Regions from separate parts of the Homo sapiens genome. Here all the other regions are linked to region 3. The links come from fine-mapping of genetic effects on gene expression. A gene starts in region 3. Each other region holds a variant in brackets. All regions are shown on one strand. Distances are from middle to middle.

Region 1 (6,538 bases), 120 kb before region 3:
ATGGGTACAGGGTTTTCTCTAGGGGCGAAGAAAATGCTTTGTAACCACATAGAGGTGGAAGTTGCACAATACTGTGAATGTACCAAATGCCACTGAATTGTACACTTTAAAATGGTTAATTTGGCCAGGCACGGTGGCTCACGCCTGTAATCCTAGCACTTTGGGAAGCCAAGGCGGGCAGATTGCTTGAGGTCAGGAGTTCAAGACCAGACTGGCCAACATGGTGAAACCCCATGTCTACTAAAAATACAAAAATTAGCCTGGCATGGTGGCACGTGCCTGTAATCCCAGCTACTCGGGAGGCTGAGGCAGGAGAATCACTGGAAACCAGGAGGCAGTGAGCTGAGATTGCACCACTGCACTCCAGCCTGGGCAACAGAGTGAGTGAGACTCTGTCTCAGAAAAAAAAAAAATAAGGTTAATTTTATGTTATGTGAATTTCACCTCAATTAAAAAAATTAAATCACTTTCCCCACCAAATATTTGCCCAGATGCTCAGCAAACAGGTTCAGGGAAATGCTCTGAATGGTGGAATGAGGAAATACCAAGGAGGAGCTGATGGGGTTTGGTCTCCTCACAGCCCCATTGCAGAGGCTGAGAGGGCAACAAGGAAGGGAGAGGAAGAACAGCCCGAGCCACCCACCTAGCAACAGATTCTGAACAGGAGAGAAAGTGTGTGGACTGGGGTGGGCTTCATCAGCTTGCCATTGAGAATAGAACTATCTGACATTTACCTATTACAGAACAACAACATTACTTTTTTTGCGGAGTCCCTTTGGTTGGGTTGATGACAACTGGCCATTCAGTTTCCCTGCATTAAGACGTTCATCCCATAAGCAAACAATGCTTTGAGTCTGGCAGCCAGCCCCTAGAAGAGTTCAAAGACTAGTGAATAAGACGTCAGCATTCACAGCGGGTTTCCTTTCACCTCTGCCTTCAGTAGAAACTTCTGGAGGCAGGCAAGGCACGATGGCTCACGCCTGTAATCCCAGCACTTTGGGAGGCTGAGGCAGGCAGATCACGAGGTCAAGAGATCGAGACCATCCTGGCCAACACAGTGAAACCCCATGTCTACTAAAAATACAAAAAAAATTAGCTGGGTGTAATGGTGCGCGCCTGTAGTCCCAGCTACTCGGGAGGCTGAGGCAGGAGAATTCCTTGAACCCGGGAGGCAGAGGTTGCAGTGAGCTAAGATCAAGTCACTCCAGCCTGGTGACAGAGCGAGACTCTGTCTCAAAAAAAAAAAAAAAAGAAAAGATAAAGAAACTTCCGGAGGCATTCTGTACCTGGGGTGGGGTAGTCAGAGAAAATAGATGATGCTTTGTTAAATGTAAGTTTTAGATAAAGAACAAGTACTTTTGAAAATAAATTGTAATTGACCAGTAAAAATGTATATATTTATGGTGTACAACTTGATATTTTGAAATATGTATACATTGTGGAAAGGATAAATTGAGATAACATATACATTACCTCACATACTTTTTTTTGTGGTGAGAACACTGAAAATCTATTCTCTTAGTGATTTTTAAGTATATAATATATTGTTATCAATTATAGTCATTGTTTGTACAATAGATCTCTTGGACTTATTCCTTTTATTGAACTCAAATTTTGTATCCTTTGGCCAACATCTCCCCAAACCCATTCTTTGGTAACCACCATTCAACTCTGTTTTAATGAGTTGGGCTGTTTTAGATTCCACACAGAAGTGAGATCACGTGGTTTTGGTCTTGCTGTGCCTGGCTTATTTTACTTAGCACAATGTCCTCCAGGTTCATTCGTGTTGTCACAAGTGACATAATTTTCCTCTTTTTATTTTAAGGCTGAATAGTATTCCATTGTATATATACATTTTCTTTATCCATACATCCATGATGGACACTTACTTTAATTCCATATCTTGGTTACTGTGAATAATGCTGCAATGAACATGAGACACAGATATCTCTTTGACATACTGACTTCATTTCCTTTGGATATACAATCAGTAGTGGGTAGCTGGATTGCACGTGCCTTCATCCATTTGTCCTGCTACCACAAAATACCTGACACTGGGTAATTGATTAAGAACAGAAATGTATTTTCTCTTTCTTTTCTTTCTTTTTCTTTTTTTTTTTTTTTTGAGATGGAGTCTCGCTCAGTCGCCCAGGCTGGAGTGCAGTGGTGCAATCTCTGCTCACTGCAAGCTCCACGTCCCGGGTTCATGCCATTCTCCTGCCTCAGCCTCCTGAGTAGCTAGGACTACAGGCGCCCGCCACCACGCCCAGCTAATTTTTTTTTTTTTTTTTTTTTTTTTTTTTTAGTGGAGACGGGGTTTCACTGTGTTAGCCAGAATGGTCTCGATCTCCTGACCTCGTGATCCACCTGCCTCAGACTCCCAAGGTGCTGGGATTACAGGCGTGAGCCACCGCTCCTGGCCAGAAATGTATTTTCTCACAGTTGAAGAAGCTCAGAAGTCCAAGATCAAGGCTCCAGCATTTGGTATCTGATGAGGACTGCTCTCTGCTTCCACAATCACGTCTTGTTGCTGTGTCCTTGTGGCAGAAGGAAGATGAGAGTAAAGCCTCCCCCTCAAGCCCTTTTATAATGGCCTGAATCTCATCCATGAAGGTGGGGCCCTCATGACTTAATCACTCCCCAAATGGTCCCACCTCTTGATATCACCACCATGGGGATGAAGTTTCAACATGAATTTTGGAGGGGACATATTCAAACCATAGCAATATGCCAGTTCCATTTTTAATTTTTTGAGACACCTCCATACTCATTTCCATAGTGGCTATACTAATTTACATTCTCACCAACATCATACAAGGAAGAACAAATACTTTGTAAGCATAAGTATGTCCTCCAATGCAATGTTTGGGACATAGTTATCCTTAAAAAAAAAAGTGTTCCTCCTTTATTTTAAATTCAAACTTAATGGAACACCCTGAATTTTGATTAGCCAAATCTGGCATCTCTGAAATTTTAGAAATTTCTACTGATGGATTTTCAGACTTTGTGGGTTTGGAGAACACTTTGTGTCCTCTGGGACATGCACCGCCCCACCAGCCTTTTCCTCTGTGGAATACTCAGTTTCCCAAATGACTGTGCAGCTTCAAATACCACAAGCCTCAAGTTTGTAACAAATGGCCTCAGGCCTGGTTTTATTTGCTGATACCCTGCTGGTGGCAGCGGTAGCCCCTGCAATTTACACCAGGTGGGAAACGGGCTGCAGCATCCAACCTTCCTAATGGAAACAGGCTGTGATCCAATGGAGTGTGAAAGGTGCTGAGCTCCACCCACTCCTCAGCAACCCGGTTCCTTAGGAAGAGCTCTCTGCGGGCAGGACCTGGTTCTGGGAGAAAACTTCCCGGAGTTGCTCAGAAGTTGGCCCTTCTGGATTTTGACATTTCCTCCCACCTTTGTTCTCCTGGGTTTTCTCAGGCCAAGGAGGGCTATGTGAGGAAGGAGTCAGCCCACAGCAGGGAGATCTTTTATAAACGGGAACCCAACAAGGCCAGATTATATGCCCATGGTGCCAAACTGGACTTTTAAATTATTATTATTATT[A/ATTATTG]TTATTATTAGAGACAGTGTCTTGTTCTGTCACCCAGGCTGGAGTGCAGTGGTGACATGATGGCTCATTGCAGCCTCAACTTCTTGGGCTCAAGCGATCCTCCCACCTCAGCCTCCTGAGTAGCTGGTACTACAGACTCGTGCCACCACACCTGCATGATTTTTAAATTTTTTGGAGAGATAGGGTCTTGCTATGTTGTCCAGGCTGATCTTGAACTCTTGGGCTCAAGTGATCCTCCTGCCTCAGCCTCCCAAAGCATTGGCATTACAGGTGTAAGCCACTGCGCCTGGCCTGGACAACTATTATTAATGCCCACTTGCCTCTGTTAAGACTTAAACTCAAATACTGGACGAAAGGAAGAAAAGAACTCTCTGTTGACTTCTAACCCTGGGAAATGACTGGCAAGAATGGTAATAAACAGCCCCTTTCCACTCCTCAAGTCCACCAGTCAGTTCCTTTGCTTCATTTACTTAAAGATGTAAAGGAGTTGGGGGGAAAAAAAAAGAGGGGGGGCTTGATCCTCATGGTGAGAACCACACACCCACACCCATCCTACCCTGCGAAGTTCAAACAACTGTGCTATAGGCTGGGACGGCAGGCTCGTTATGCATGTCTCCCTGGGCGGAGGCAGTCTGCCAGACCCCCGAAACACACAATACTTTGGCTCTTGGTCAAAAACACCAACATTCATTGCTGACAATATCCCCACCTACCACCGGTCCCTAGCCACCCCTTCCTGGAAAATGTGATGGAGGAGGGAGAGTCGGCCAACTCCAACACCACCTGGCCCTCAGCAGCAGACCTGGACGCTGGCCCGGAAGCAGCCCTGGCCCGTCCGTGGACAGCTCCTCGGGGGTGTGCATGGAGCAGCATATCCTTCTTCTCACAGCTTCAGCTTCCTGCAAGGCTGCGGAGTCACCTCTGTTGGCTTGGACCTCTCTGACCTCAGATGACATGGGAAACGGAGGCCAGTGGGTGAAATTGGGAGGCTGAGCTGTGATGTGCCACTATCCGGCATAGGGTGGGACACATTGTCCCTGAAAAGGGAGGCTAACTTCCCACCCCACCCAGCCACAGCACAGCCTTTCCAGGGGGAACCAACCCACCCCCTCTCCCCGTCTGGCTCTGAAAATGTGTGCCACATACTGTAGCCCAGTTGCTGTCGGAGGCAATTTGAACTCAACCAAGGAGCTGACACTCAGTTCTTTGTCTACTGCTTTAGGAAGTCTTAACTCCCTTTAGAATAGCTGGGTTTTGGAGGCTTTTTGGGGAGGGGACTGATAGATATAAAAGCATACTTTCAGAGGTTTGCTTACTAAACAATGTCATGCTGAAAACTCACAGTGATCCCAGCAGCCGCTAACTGAAATCATACACTCGAATCAATTTTTGCTAATCCAGAAATCTGGCAGACTTGTCCAGATCCCAAAGGAATAAGAATATAAATGTAATTTGGCTCATTCAACATGGTCCTTAAAAAGACTAAACAAAACAACCACTTATGTAGTAGGAGAACCTAATAATAAGACAGGCCTTCCTTCTTTGGTAGACTCAGTAACTGAATTTTCCTCTTGCACACAACTGTTTGGGACCATTAAGATTACCAAAGTGACAGAGAGAGACTCTATTTCTTCTCAGCTTTTCTGAGAACCTTTTTGGAGGGTCTCTTATGTATTAATATACCTCTGTCAAATTTCTCCTCAGCCTGGGGCCCCCTTCGGTGTTGCTCTCCCCCCGAGGAACACTCCAGGCTTCAGCTTAAATGTTCCTTCCTCAGAGAAACTTTTCCTGACCACCCCCTTCAACCATGGCTTAGCTTCTCCTGTTACGATTTTTTTTTTTAGATGGAGTCTCGCTCTGTCACCTAGGCTGGAGTGTAGTGGTACAAACTCAGCTCACTGCAACCTCTGCCTCCCGGGTTCAAGAGATTCTCCTGCCTCAGCCTCCTGAGTAGCTGGGATTACAGGCACGCACCACCACGCCCGGCTAATTTTTGTATTTTTAGTAGAGACGAGGTTTCACCATGTTGGTCAGGGTGGTCTCAAACTCCTGACCTCATGATCCACCCACCTTGGATTCCTAAAGTGTTGGAATTACAGGCCTGAGCCACCACGCCCAGCCTTCCTTTTTTTTCTTTTCTTTTTTTTTTTTTTTTTTGAGATAGAGTCTCACTATGTCACCCAGACTGGAGAGCAGTGGCACGATCTTGACTCACTGCAGCCTCAGCCTCCTGGGCTCAAGTGATTCTCTCATCTCAGCCTCAGTAGCATGGACTACAGACGCACTCCACCATGCCCAGCTAATTTCTGTATTTTCTGTAGACTCAGGATATCGCCATATTGCCTAGGTTGGTCTCGAATTCCCAAGCTCAGGAGATCCACCTGCCTCGGCCTCCCAAAGTGCTGGGATTACAAACACGAGCCACCACGTCCAGTCCACCTGTTACGATTTCTTGTTGTTCTTGTTACTGTTGGAGCACTTAACTACTAATGACATTTTCATCTTTAATTGTGTGATGATGCATTTAATGTATGCCTCCTTTCTAGACTATAAGCTCCATAAGAGCAATGTTATGGGTCAAGTTATTCCCCCAGCCTCCAAAAAAGATGTTAAAATCCTAACCCCTGGTACCTCAGAACATAACCATAGTTGGAAGTAGGGCCATTGCAAATGTAATTAGTTCAGATGAGGTCATACAGCAGAAGAGTGAGCACCTAGCCCAATATGACCAGTGTCTTTATAAGAAGACAGCCTTGCTGGGCACAGTGGCTCACACCTGTAATCCCAGCACTTTGGGAGGCCGAGGCAGGTGGATCACCTGAGGTCAAGAGTTCGAGACCTGCCTGACCAACATGGTGAAACCCTGTCTCTACTAAAAATACAAAAATTAGCTGGGCGTGGTGGTGTGCACCTGTAATCTTAGCTACTCAGGAGGCTGAGGCAGGAGAATCGCTTGAACCCGGGAGGTGGAGTCTGCAGT
Region 2 (6,621 bases), 35 kb after region 3:
AAAATTAGCCGAGTGTGGAAGTGCATGCCTGTAGTCTCAGCTACTTGGGAGGCTGAGGTGGGAGGATCATTTGAGCCTGGGAGTTTGAGACTGCAGTGAGCTCTGATTGCACCACTGCACTCCAGCTTGGGCAATAGAGGGAGATCCTGTCTCTTAAAAAGAAAAAAAAAAGGAAAGAAACAAATTCAGTACTGAAAAATCCCAGCAAACGATGTGTATCAGGTAGAGCCCAAGGTCAGGAGTCCAGGTGGCTGGTGTGGCCTGCCTGCCTGCACTGCCCCTTTCTCTCTTGCCAGGCAGAGCATGGGGGCTGGCCACATGACCTTTGAGCAGCCCCAGGCATCAAGCTGGAGCTGGCAGTAAGGGCAGGAGCAGCCTCCTATCCTGTTGTATCATGTAGACTTTGGCCACCAGAAGAAATTGCTCCATGTCTTTCCTTCTACAGATATACCTGTCCACATGCACACACACACACAAGTATACACATACACACCTGTCCACATGCACACAGAGATGTCCACATGTGCACACCCATGCCCACACAGATGTCCACATGTCCACACAGATGTCCACATGTGCACACCCATGCCCACATGCACACACAGATGTCCACATGCACACACACATATGCCCACATGCACACAGGCACACACACCCACTTGCACATACATATCCACATGCACACGTGGCCACTGCCATATGCACAGACATGTGCACACGCATACATGTACATGTGCACGCATGGCTGGTTAATTCTTGCTTATAAAATGCTCTCAAGTGATGAGCAAGACGGAAAGTTAGACTCTTAATACAGTTTAAAAAGAAAAGAAGGAGAGGGGGAGGAAGATAAGAAGAAAAGAGATGGTTGAGGGAAATGGAGGGGAGAGGAAAAAAAGAGGGGATGGAGAAGGAGGAAGAAGAGGAGGCATGTCAAAAAGAGATGACGAAAACTACACTCTATTTGACATTTTCCGATGACCTCTTTCTTCCTTCCGTTTTGCCAGTGTCACTCTGTGATGATAGGTGTAAGTTGACTGTGTGCATTGCCCGTCTGTGACCGTTTTCGACTCACAGAAATGGCAGTCTGAAGTGGCTCGGCCTCTTGCTTGAGAGACAGATTGGAGCAGAGTCTTTGTGGATGCAAAGCCACCTGGGCCACTGCCGTGTGTGCCACCCTGAACTTCAAGCTGCCCTGAACCGCGTGCGTTTCTCAGTGTCACGTACAGCTCGGCCTGACCGTTTGCCTTTTAGTGTTCTCTTCCTTCTCGGTGTCCTCCTCCTCTTCCTCACTAACATTCATCCAGAGCCTTTCAGTGCAGAAATCAGGTAGCTGCTGAACTCGGCAGCTGCGTCCTTTTTCCCATCATCTCTTCTGTCCTTTGCTAGCTGTCATTTCTTCCCTCTTGGCTTCAACTGCACATCCCTGGGTTTGTCCTAATAGGGAATTTTTCCCACTTGAGTAGACAAGCATGAGAATATCATTATTTTTATATGTTATATGTTATATTTTTAGCAGAGAAAAAAGTGGAAAATGTGTGCAAACTTGCAGAAGGCCCCCCGGAGGAGGGTCGTCCCTGTGCCCATGCTGTCAGGAAGGCCCCGGAGGAGGGTCGTCCCTGTGCCCATGCGGTCAGAAAGGCCCCGGAGGAGGGTCATCTCTGTGCCCATGCGGTCAGGTTGGGGCTGAGGCACTTTGATCATTGCTCCTCCTCAGAGTGTTCTTTTCCTCCCCTCTCAGATTATAATAACGAGGTAGTTACAGAGTGAGCTCCAGCCTAGATCGTCTGGGTTTGAATCCAGCTCCATGACTGTGGCCGTGTTGCCTAATCTCTCTGAGTCTCAGCTTCCTTTTCTGTAAAGTGGGTATAATAGTAGAGTCTACACTGTGGGGCTGTGGTGGGATTCATTGTGTTCACACGTGTGCAGGGCTGAGAACAGGGCCCCAAACAGGGTAGGCACAATGAAGCATGAGTCAGAATAATAATACAGATGACAGTTTCTCTATCACTAATTTGAACATTGCAGACAGTGCAAAGAAGAAAATTAGAAACTGGGAGGATCACTTGAGCACAGGAGTTCAAGTCCAGCCTGGGCAACGTAGTGAGACCCCTGTCTCTTTTTAAAAAATTTAGCACAATTTATTAAAAAAAAGAAGAAGAGGCCGAGCATGGTGGCTCACGCCTGTAATCCCAGCACTTTGGGAGGCCAAGGTGGGTGGATCATGAGGTCAAGAGATCAAGACCAGCCTGGCCAACATGGTGAAACCCCGTCTCTACTAAAAATACAAAAATTAGCTGGGCGTGGTGGTGCACACCTGTGGTCCCAGTTACTCCAGAGGCTGAGGCAGGAGAATCGCTTGAACCCGGGAGGCAGAGGTTGCAGTGAGCCGAGATTGCGCCACTGCACTCCAGCCTGGCGACAGAGTGAGACTCTGTGTCAAAAAAAAAAAAAAAAAAAAAAAAAAAAGAAGATCAAAACCTTTGTTGCTACGTTGCTGCTCAGGCACATGGAGATAGGGAAACGCCGGATCTGAGTATTATGGCCCTTTTCACTTAGGACCTATCAGGAGCACTTTGTCGTGCTTTTTAATGACTGAAGACAGATGACAACAGTTTCTTTCCTCAGTTGCTTATTTTCATATATTTAATCTGTTCTGAAAATTCAGCTGTGAAGATGC[T/C]TTCTTATTTAAATGACTCTCCCTCACCGCTCTGAATCAAAGCTCTGGCACTTCTCTGAGCACCTGCAGTTGGAGCCAGTCTCCACCTTCTGGACTGTCTTAGTGACTGGTGGGAGCTTTGTATCCAGAGCCCTCGAGGTTAAGAGTCCAGCTGTCCCTCAACCTCAGCGTCTCAGTTCACCCATTGGAAAGTGGTGATGGGAACAGCACCCTTCCTTGTCGGACTGTGTGAGGATGGAAAGAGAAGATAAGATGACGCGGATAAGGTGCTTAGCACAGTGTCAGGCACCTACTCAGTGAAGGCTCCTCATTCCAGTTATGTGTATTTATAAAACTGACTGTATTATGTCGTAGCTGTCTGTATATAGCTGACTTCATCGTGGCCTTCTGGATGCACCACTTTTGTCGCTCTGGTACCTCGGACAGGGTCTGGCATGTATTAGTTGCTTAGTAAATGCTAGACGAGTGAACAAATGGATAAAACACTGATGTGTCCACTACTCAAGTGCACACCATTTATGTCATGAAAGTTGATATTAATGAGTGATAAACTAAAAAATAAAAGTAGTCACTGCTTTTTGTTTATTGTCCCGTAGTTTCCTAGGGCTGCCAGGTCAGATGACCACAAACTGTAGGTGGCTTAAAACAACAGAAATGTGTTGTCTCACAGTTCTGGAGGCCAGATGTCCAGAGCCAGGGTGTCAGCAGAGCTGTGCTCCCTCTGACTCAGGTGGACTCTTTCTTGGCCTCTCCCCAGCCCCGGGCTTGCCAGCAGTCCCTGGCGTGCCTTGGCTTGCAGCAGCCTCACTCGGATCGCTGCCCCCATCATCACATGACGTTCTCCCCATTCTGTGTGTCCAGATTTTCCTTTTTTTTTTTTTTTTTTTTTTTTTTGAGACAGAGTCTTGCTCTGTCGCCCAGGCTGGAGTGCAATGGCATGGTCTCAGCTCACTGCAAACTCTGCCTCCCAGATTCAAGGGAGTCTCCTGCCTCAGCCTCCTGAGTAGCTGGGACTACAGGCATGTGCCACCACACCTGGCGAATTTTTGTGTTTTTAGTAGAGATGGGGTTTCAATATGTTGGCCAGGCTGGTTTTGAACTCCTGACCTTGTGATCTGCCTGCCTCATCCTCCCAAAGTGCTGGGATTACAGGTGTGAGCCACCGTGCCTGGCCGATTTTCCTCTTCTTATGAGGATACCGGTCATTGGATTAGGGCCCACCTTAATGCATTATGACCTCATCTTAACTTGGTTACGTCTGTAAAGACCCCTTTCTAAATAAGGTCCTAGTCACAGGTATTGGGGATTAGGACATCAGCATAGTTTGGGGAAGGACAAAATTCACTCTGTAACACCTCCATATACAGTCATGTACCACATAATGTTCTGGTCCACAGTGGGCCACGTATATAACAGCGGTCCCATAAGACTATAATTCCATATTTTTACTGTACCTTTTGTACGTTTAGATACGTTGAGATACATACATACTTACTATTATATTGCAGTTGCCTACATACAGTATTCAGTACAGTAACGTGCTGTACAGGTTTGTAGCCTGAGAGCATATAGCATAGCCTTGGTGTGTGATAGGCTAGACCCTCCAGGTTTGTGCAAGTACATGCTATGATGCTCGCACAACAACGAAATTCCCCAGCGACACATTTCTCAGAACGTAGCCTCATCGTTAAGTGATGCATGACTGTATTTCAGACACTGCTGGGCTTTTTGTTTAGATTTTTAAAATTATACTTAAAAGGAGAGTGTTGGTTTCCCTCTATAAGTGATGGTTCGATTCAGCAAATCCTAAAAGGAAACTGCTCCCCATGACAGGCACAGCACCTAGATTCTGCAGCAGGTATAAACACTAGACTCCGTGACAGGTGTGACACTAGAATCAAAGACACATCGCTGAGCCAAGTCCCCAGGGTGGAGACAGGTCCACCCAAGAGGAGTCCTGCCTTGGAGGGATTCAGAGTTGCTGGGAATTGAGCAGCTCCCTGGTCTCGAAGTGCACATGATTTTAATAGATGACTTAAATGGGAAGAAAAGGCGACCCTGGGGGCGCCAATCCCGGATTGGCAGTGCTGGGATCGGAGGCTCTGATCACTGTGCTCAGAGGCTCCTTCCTGCATCTACAGTTGTGCGGAGTGCACGTGACGCAGGTGTGGGGAAAGTCTGGAGGGCCAGGGTTCCGCATCCGAGCTCCACCAGGGAACTGCTTTCCCCAGTTAAGCTTTTGTAGAGGCTGCGGGGCAAACCCAATTATAATTCCAAGAAAGGAGTGATGCCCCATCCAGGGAGCGGCATGTTTTGCAACCCGGGTATGGATGAAAGGCCCCTGTTGATTTGAGAAACACACAGGTCATGGGAGGTGCCTGTGGCTGAGCCCGTGAGGGGCAGAAACCAGAGTCCGTAGAGGCCTAAACAGGACATTTAACTGAGGCCTGGGCATTTTACACTTCCTCTCTGTCAAACAGCTTTTTCCCTTGGTCTTGTTTTAAGCCCTAGGAGATAGGTTTGTTACTGTAGTTCTGATGGTGTGAATTTTTGGATAAGTTTTTTTTTCCTTAGGTTTAAACTGAGTCTTCCAGAAGGTAGTTTTATAACCTGATGTAACAGTAAGGATCTTTTTCAGAGATTTTATTTATTAACAAGCTAACAAGTCTTTCACTCCTTAACATCAGACAGATGGACCCTTCATCTTAGAGTAGAGAAGAGCGGGGCCCATGCCCAGAGCATTTCTGTCACTGGCCCTGACAACTGCCAGGCACCTTATGGGTCAAGCCTGAGGGGCAGGAATTCCTGCTGGGATTCACAGCATTCACCACTTCTTGAATAAGGCTTTTTTTTGGAGACACAGTTTCACTCCTGTTGGCCAGACTGGAGTGCAGTGGCGCGATCTCAGCTCACTGCAACCTCTGCCTCCCAGGTTCAAGTGATTCTCCTGCCTCAGCCTCCCGAGTAGCTGGGATTACAGGTGCGTCCCACCATTCCCAGCTAGGTTTTGTATTTTTAGTAGAGATGGGATTTCACCAGACTAGTCTCGAACTCCTGACCTCAGGTGATCTGCTCGCCTCGGCCTCCCAAAGCGCTGGGATTGCAGGCATGAGCCACAGCACCTGGCCTAGGGTTTTTAATTATACATCCACCTCCAGTTGACACGGCCTCTTCTTTCACCTCTGCCTTTTCCTCAGCCATCCAGCCATCCCTTTGGAAACATACCTCCTTCCTCCTGAGGGGCTCAGCAGCTGGTTGGGGAGACAGACATGAAACCAATTTTAGTAGAGAACCCCGTGTAAAGTGCTGGCATGGCCAATGCTGGGGTCTTCTGGGAGAGCAGGGAGGGATGTAGAGGCAGAGGGAAGGCCTCCGGAGGTCAAGACACTTGATCTGGATCTTAAGGAATGAGAATGAGTTTACCCGGCTGAAAAAAGTTAGAAGGGATATACCAAGAAGGGAACAGTGTGAGTAAAGGCAGGGACGTGTGGATGAGTTTGACCTTTCAAGCACAGAGTATCTTGGGAGTGAGGGCAAGATGTGGTTGGAAAAGTGAGTGGGGAATGGAGTGTGGAGTATATCATGCTAAAGGGTTGGAACTCTGTGGTGAGAGCCAATGAAAAGTTAAAAGCTGGCTGGGTGCGGTGGCTCACGCCTGCAATCCCAGCACTTTGGGAGGCCGAGGCGGGTGGATCCTGAGGTCAGGAGATCGAGACCATTCCGGCCAACATGGTGAAAACCCCGTCTCTACTAAAAATACAAAAATTAGCTGGGCATGGTGGTGTGCGCCTATAAATCCCAGCTACTCGGGAGGCTGAGGCAGGAGAATTGCTTGAACCTGGGAGGTGGAGATTGCAGTGGGCCGAGATCACATCACTGCACTGCAGCCTGGGCAACTGAGCAAGGCTCCATCTCAAAAAAAAAAATAAATAAAAATACATTAA
Region 3 (6,621 bases):
TGCCTGGCTGATTTTTGTATTTTTTTGTAGAGAGATGGAGTTTCGCCATGTTGCCCAGGCGGGTCTTGAACTCCTGGGTTCAAGTGATTCGCCTGCTGCGGCCTCCCAAAATGCTGGGATTATAGGCATGAGCCACCTCCCCTGGCCTTGGCTGCTTTTTGATAGTGGGAAGGAAAGCATGGAAAACAAATAGCAGCTTTCTCTTAGAATGCAAAGAACAGAAGCTGCCGACACCTGAAAATAAAAGCTATGCCCTGTGCTTTGAGGAAGACCAGAGTCAGCTCTGAATCACCCATGCATGTGAGGAGCTGAGAGTAGTCGTGTGGACAATCCAAAATACCAGAGAAACTTATCAGGATTTCATATGGGCTGGGAAACCCTAAAGCTGCCCAAAAGTGTGTCAGAAGTGTTTTAGATGAGGTATTTCTTCAAAACAATAAAACTGGTTGACAAAAACATGCTCCCTTACATGTTAGGATTCTACAAAGATTTATTGTGCAAAAATAAAAGCATAAAAATCACTGAATTAAAATGTTTGGCTTTGAATATACTTTTTTTAAAAAACAGACTTCATATACTTCATATGTTTGTGTATGTATTTTTTATTTTTTTAAGAAACAGGGTTGAACAGGTGCGCTGGCTCACACATGTAATCCCAGCACTTTGGGAGGCCGAGGTGGGCAGATCACGAGGTCAGGGGTTCGAGACCAGCCTGACCAACATGGTGAAACCCCGTCTCTACTAAAAATACAAAAATTAGCCAGGCATGGTGGTGCGTGTCTGTAATCCGAGCTACTCAGGAGGCTGAGGCAGGAGAATTGCTTGAACCCGGGAGGTGGAGGTTGCAGTGAGCAGAGATCGCACCATTGTGCTCCAGCCTGGGTGACAGAGTGAGATTCTGTCTCAAAAAAAAAAAAAAAAAAAAAAGAGAAAAAGAAACAGGGTCTCACTTTGTTGCCCAGGCTGGAGTGTGAACTCTTGGGCTCAAGCGATCCTCCTGCCTTGGCCTCCTGAGTAGCTGGTATTATAGGTGAGAGTAGTATCACCACACCTGGCCCCTAGACTATTTTTCACTATTTTTTTTAAGTGATTTATTTTTTTAAATTTTTTTGAGACACAATTTCACTCTGTCACCCAGGCTGGAGTGCAGTGGCTTGATCTTGGCTCACTGCAAACTCCACATCCCAGGTTCAAGCAATTCTCGTGCCTCAGCCTCCTGAGTAGCTGGAATTACAGGCATCTGCCACCATACCTGGCTAAGTTTTGTATTATTAGTAGAGATGGGGGTTCACCATGTTGACCAGGCTGGTCTCGAACTTCTGACCTCAGGTGATCCATCCACCTCGGCCTCCCAAAGTGTTGGGATTACAGGCGTGAGCCACTATGCCCAACCCTAAAGTGATTTTAGACTCACAGCAAAACTGAGAAGGAGGCACAGCGGTTTCCCATATACCTCCTGCCCTGACACGTGTACAGCTTCCCCAATCATCAACATCCCCCACCAGAGTGGTACCTTTGTTGTAATTGAATCTACATTGACACATCACTATCACCCAAAGTCCATGGTTTACATTAGAGTTCATTCTTGGTGTTGTATATTCTGTGGGTCTTAACAAATGTGTCCACCATTATAGTATCATACCGAGTAGTAGTTTCCTTGCCCTCTGTGCTCCTCCTGTCCACCCCTCCCTCCCTGCTAACCCCTGACAACCACTGATCTTTTGTACTATCTCCATAGTGCCTTTTACAAAATGTCATATAGTTTGGAATCATACAGAACATAGCCTTTTCAGACCGGTTTCTTTCAGGCATATATCTCCTAAAGCAAAGCAACATGAGTTCTTAACTGTGTGGATTTTTTTTTTTTCCCTGAGGATAATAAGTTTACATTCTCTCAGTCCAACAGCTGGATCATATAGGGACACCATAGGTGTTCTACTGAGTGACAGAAGAAGATGACTGGGGATTAAAACAATAATACCCTAATTGGAAAATTAGCTGTGGGAAATCAGGGGTTGATAAGCAGCCCTCTTTTCCATATCTTCTCCTTCTGCCCCACTCTCCTACCGTGCCCCCACCCTACACCCCACGGGTTTCCCACTCCTTCTCAGAGGTCTGGAGGGCATTCTCCCACCCTTTCCAGTGGACTACCCACAGGAGCCCTGAAGCAAATGCCCGAAGGAAATTCCTATCACCTGTGTGCTCTGATAGGCACTTGGAGCTGGGATGTGGTACTAATCAGTAAAACATACCCCGTGCCCTTTAGCAGCTCACAGTTGATGGCAGTGAGAAATTTGTAAACAAAATAATCTTTCAGGAGAGACTGCAAAACTAGAAACAAACGTAGTGGAGGAACTCTTAGAATGTGGTCCTTTTGAAAGGACTCACACCCGGCCCCCAGAGAATCTGACTTAATTGGCCTGGGTTGAGTATATTGTTGGAGAGTGTCAAAACACTCCCCAGGTGATTCTGACATTAGCCGGGGCCCGGAACCACCCCCGACCTACTGAATCTGGGACTCCAGGAGAGGCCCAGCCACTAGTGGTTTAACAAGCCCCTTGGGTCAAGTTTGAAAACCAGGGGTCTGGGCTGCTAAGTGGCGGCATGGGAATGGAAGGTTCTGGAAGGTGAGCAGTGAGGTTGGGGCGCAGGCCTGGGAAGGGAGAGGCTCTTCAACAGCCATCCCCCCCAACCTTGTCTCAGCCTAGGGCAATGGGCAGGCTCTCCCATCAGAGCCTGGCCTGAGCCCTCAGAGGCAGGACCTCCTTGAGGGATGTGGAGGTGTGAAGACCAGTTCTGAGACCACAGAGGCTCCCTTCAAGCCTCAGTCTCTGACCCTGCGGGCATTATTTCCATGACTTCCAGTGTTGTGGCTCCTTATCCTTTCCCCACAGGCTCGCCCCCCAACTGAGGGCTGGCTTTTTTATTTTTTTGAGACGGAGTTTCGCTGGTTGCCCAGGTTGGAGTGCAATGGGGCGATCTCAGCTCACTGCAACCTCTGCCTCCCAGGTTCAAGCGATTCTCTCGCCTCAGCCTGCCAAGTAGCTGGGATTATAGGGACCCACCACCACACCTGGCTGTTTTTGTTGTTGTTGTTTTGGTATTTTTAGTACAGACGGGGATTCGCCGTGTTGGCCAGGCTGGTCTCGAACTCCTGACCTTAGGTGATCCATCCGCCTTGGCCTCCCAAAGTGCTCAGATTACAGGCGTGAGCCAGCACGCCCGGCCGAGGGCTGGCTTTTAAAACACCGAAAACCCAGACAGGAACGGTGTCCATCTCCAACCCCAGACGGAAACTGTGCCCGCACCCACAAGAAAAGCAGTCCTTTGCCCAGAGCAACCAAACCCTGAACCCCACTCTCGATTCCCCTCTGCCCCCCAACTCTTCCATCCCAGCGGATGGGAAACAGCGAGTCCAGCCGCCTCCCCACCTCGGGACCCCCCTCCCGGGCCAACTGCGCAGGGCACGACCCCGTCGTGGTGCCCCGCGCGCTCGACCCCCAGGGGTTGAGGTGAGGAGGGATCCCCGGTGTCCCGGGAAGCGCGGCGGCTTCTGCGGGTTGCGGGCGGACCCCCCTCCCCGTGGGGAGGGGCTGCGGCCGCGCGGAGTCGCCGCGGGTCGGAGGCTCCTCCCCGGGGTGGCCGCGCAGGAAGCGGGGCGGGTGGGGGCGGTGCGGGGCGCGCACGGGGCCGGGGCGGCGGGGGAGGCGCGGGCCTGGGCGGCCAGCCCCGGCGCACAGCCGCGGCCGGGGCGCGCGGCGCGGGGCGGAAAAGCCTGTTTACACAGACTGCACACCGCCTGGGGAATAATGCAGTAAAGGAAGTGAGCCGGCTCGGCCTGACTGCTCCAACTTCCTGCTCTCACACACACCAGAGGGGAAAAAAAAAGAGGAGCGAGAGAAAGAAAAAAAGGGGGAAAAATCAGGATCTCATTACAAGAGCCACAGACCGTCTGCAGACGCCTGTCAGCATGGAAAGTCGGGGGCTTTCGCCCGGGTCCTCCTAGAAATTCCCCCCGAAGAAGACTCCCCCACATCTGGGTAGGTAACAGGGCTTCTGCCTGTTGCTCGGACACTTAAAAAGTTTGTTTGGGGGTGTTTTCTTTTTTTCTTTCTTTTCTTGGGCGCGGTGGGGGTGGGGCGGGGGGCGCCGCGGGGTGGGCTGCGGGCCGGGGTGGGGGTGGCGGTGCGTCCGCGCGGGAGGGCCGGCCGCGGGGAGGGGGCGCCGCGGATGCTCCTGCGCCCGCGTCGCTGCCACCGCCGTCGCCCGAGCTCGCGCCGGGCCCGGGGCTGCGGGGACCCTGCGCCCGCGGCTCCCCTCCCTGGGGCTGCGCTGCGACCCCAGAGGAAGGGGCGCCGGGCGTGCAACCCTGGGAGCTCGCCCAGGGCCCCGCTGCAGGCAGCGCGGGGAGCGGGGGACGGCGAGACTTCGGGTCCCTGGGAAGAACCGTGGCAGGAGCAGGCTGAGTGCCTGGAGGCTGGACCACCGCCGACCTTCCAGCTGGGACCGCAGTCAGGCTCCCCTCGAGTGGGCAAAGTGCACTGGTGCTCGGATCCAGGGAGGAAGACAGGGATGGAGAGGGCGGTGGAGGACATGGGTCGCGAAGGTGTGGGGCTGGGGGCTGCGTCCACTCTCGCTTGGCAGGTGACCCCCGCCCAGGTCACCGCCCCAGGCGCACGCCCCATCGGACATTTAAAAGCCGGTGGTCTCTATTGGGCATGGTTTTGGAGAAGGACCAGGCAAGAAATGATCTTGGGGCCCCTTCCACTCCCCATCCCTGTTTACCTTCGAACTCAACGTTGGCCTGTGACGCTACTGTAACTTTTGGGGAGGCGGGATTAAGATTTTGGAGTAGTTAAAAAGCAAAAATAAAAGGTCTTGGTTTTGTTATCTTTTCTGAACCGAATCATCCTAGGGACAAGCTGCAGTTAGGCGGCGGGTGGAGGTGGAAGCAAGAAATGTTATTTCAGAAACTGCAAAAGGGGCTTTTTAGAAAGAAAAAAAAACGAGTGTCGGGAGAGTTTCTGGCTTGTCTGGAAACGGCAAGACTAATTGCCATGCGCTTCCGCTTTGAAACTGGCAGCAGACAGCATCTTGAAAATGACTCACTAGAGGAGCTCACAAAGAAACTGTGGTTTGCTCCTTCTTAGGTTTATGTATTTGTGCCTTTTACAGTTTCCTTTGTAGTGTTCGAGGGGTCCCCCGCCCCTTCCCCGCCAGCCCCCTCCCACCCTCCCTCATTTGAAAGCCCCTGGCCGGTCTTTAACTACCCCCACCCCAGTCCTCCAGCCTGGGGGTGGCGGGGAAAGGGGAGGCTGAGTTGTTTTTGGAGTTGGCTGCGGAGAGGGTTAAAGGGATTCTGCTGCTGCAGGGGGAAAAAGTTCCTTGAATTTTCCACTGGCTGCTGCAGGAAGAGAGAGCCCCCTTAGTCATTGCTAAGTAATGTCTGCACACACACCAACTAATCTCATTAGGAGTTTCCGCTGCTCGGCACAGGAGGGGTTTTGTGCAGCCACTGTCAGCCTGGGAGCCCGGCGCTGGGGAAGGAGACAAGTTATGGCTTTATTTACTTAGGGGTGCAGCCGCCCAACGAGCCTTTTCAGGACATGTCTTGAAAACTTTGAAGTCACTTTGGCCATTTTGGATTTCAGATTTGCAGGTTTTTCTTTCCCGCGTGTGTATGTGTGTTGAGAGGTGGGGGGAGATAAGCAGCTCACACACACCCATCTTCTCCATCTGTGCTTGTCTTTGGGGGTGGGGGGGGTGTGGAGCATGTTCCAGGCATCTATTCATGAGCCGAAATCGATTTGTGAGCCTTACAAAATACCCTCTGATCTCTTTTTCTTTCTCTCTCGCCATGGCACCCATTTATTTGGAAAAGGTCAGTTAGGAGTTTCAATTTATGAGGATGATAAAATTACAAATTGTGTTAGGAGGGCACATGGGTCAGGCAGTTAAGGAGACTGTCCATAAGTGTTCTTAGAGTTTCCAGTAATGATCCTGCCTAGAAACCCCCCTGAGTTTGAAAAGTGATGGCCTTTCTATGCCAAATATAGCAAAGGCCTTCTGCCCTCTAAAAGTGTTTTTTTTTTTTTTTTTTTTTAATTTAAATGTTGCGTAGAAATGTGTGGCGTTACTAAAAAGGGTCAAAAGGAACCTGATTGGAATGATGGGGCCCCTTTATTGACAAAGACATGTTGCTTTTAAGGTGTTGGCAGTTCTTTTACGGTGGCAAAGTTGTCCTAAAAACAGCCCAAACAGCCCGACCGGGGTATGAGTCAGTGGACATGAGTACAGGATGTCCCTAATGCTATGCCTTCACAGAGTAGGTGCTCAATAAATTGTAGCATTGAAAGCTGTGAGTAGGCTAACAAAACTTATAATAGGTAAGAAAAAAGACTTACGAGATCTCATACATTTTGCATGAGTGTTCCTTAAGAATGGAGGTTGTAAACTCTCTCCAGAGTACATTTCCTTTAAATAAAAAAGGGAGTATTTAGAATTCCTCCTTCTAAGTAATTATTTGGGACACATAGGTTCATTTACGTTAGTGGTTCACAACTAGGAGTAATTTTACCTCCCAGGAGACATTTGGCAATGTCTGGAGATGTTTTTGGTTGT

What was found. PIP is the estimated chance that this variant, and not a neighbour inherited with it, causes the effect.
Region 1: its variant is fine-mapped to the expression of ELK3 in whole blood (INTERVAL, PIP 0.97).
Region 2: its variant is fine-mapped to the expression of ELK3 in whole blood (INTERVAL, PIP above 0.99).

What each region holds. Positions count from the first base shown.
Region 1 is chr12:96,074,040-96,080,577 of GRCh38, forward strand. No RefSeq gene overlaps it. Among named protein-coding and RNA genes, the nearest start is that of TRD-GTC2-8, 41 kb to the left of the region's middle. The variant A/ATTATTG (reference allele first, on the strand shown) is at 3,559.
Region 2 is chr12:96,225,979-96,232,599 of GRCh38, forward strand. All of the region lies in intron 2 of ELK3 (ETS transcription factor ELK3), which reads left to right. It overlaps LOC124902991 (a long non-coding RNA gene), which reads right to left. Exons shown (of 2, transcript XR_007063414.1): 2 at 5,306-6,621. Among named protein-coding and RNA genes, the nearest start is that of ELK3, 35 kb to the left of the region's middle. The variant T/C (reference allele first, on the strand shown) is at 2,678.
Region 3 is chr12:96,190,666-96,197,286 of GRCh38, forward strand. It overlaps ELK3 (ETS transcription factor ELK3), which reads left to right and starts at 3,710. Exons shown (of 5, transcript NM_005230.4): 1 at 3,710-4,040. RefSeq lists a silencer at 3,535-3,674 and an enhancer at 5,006-5,085.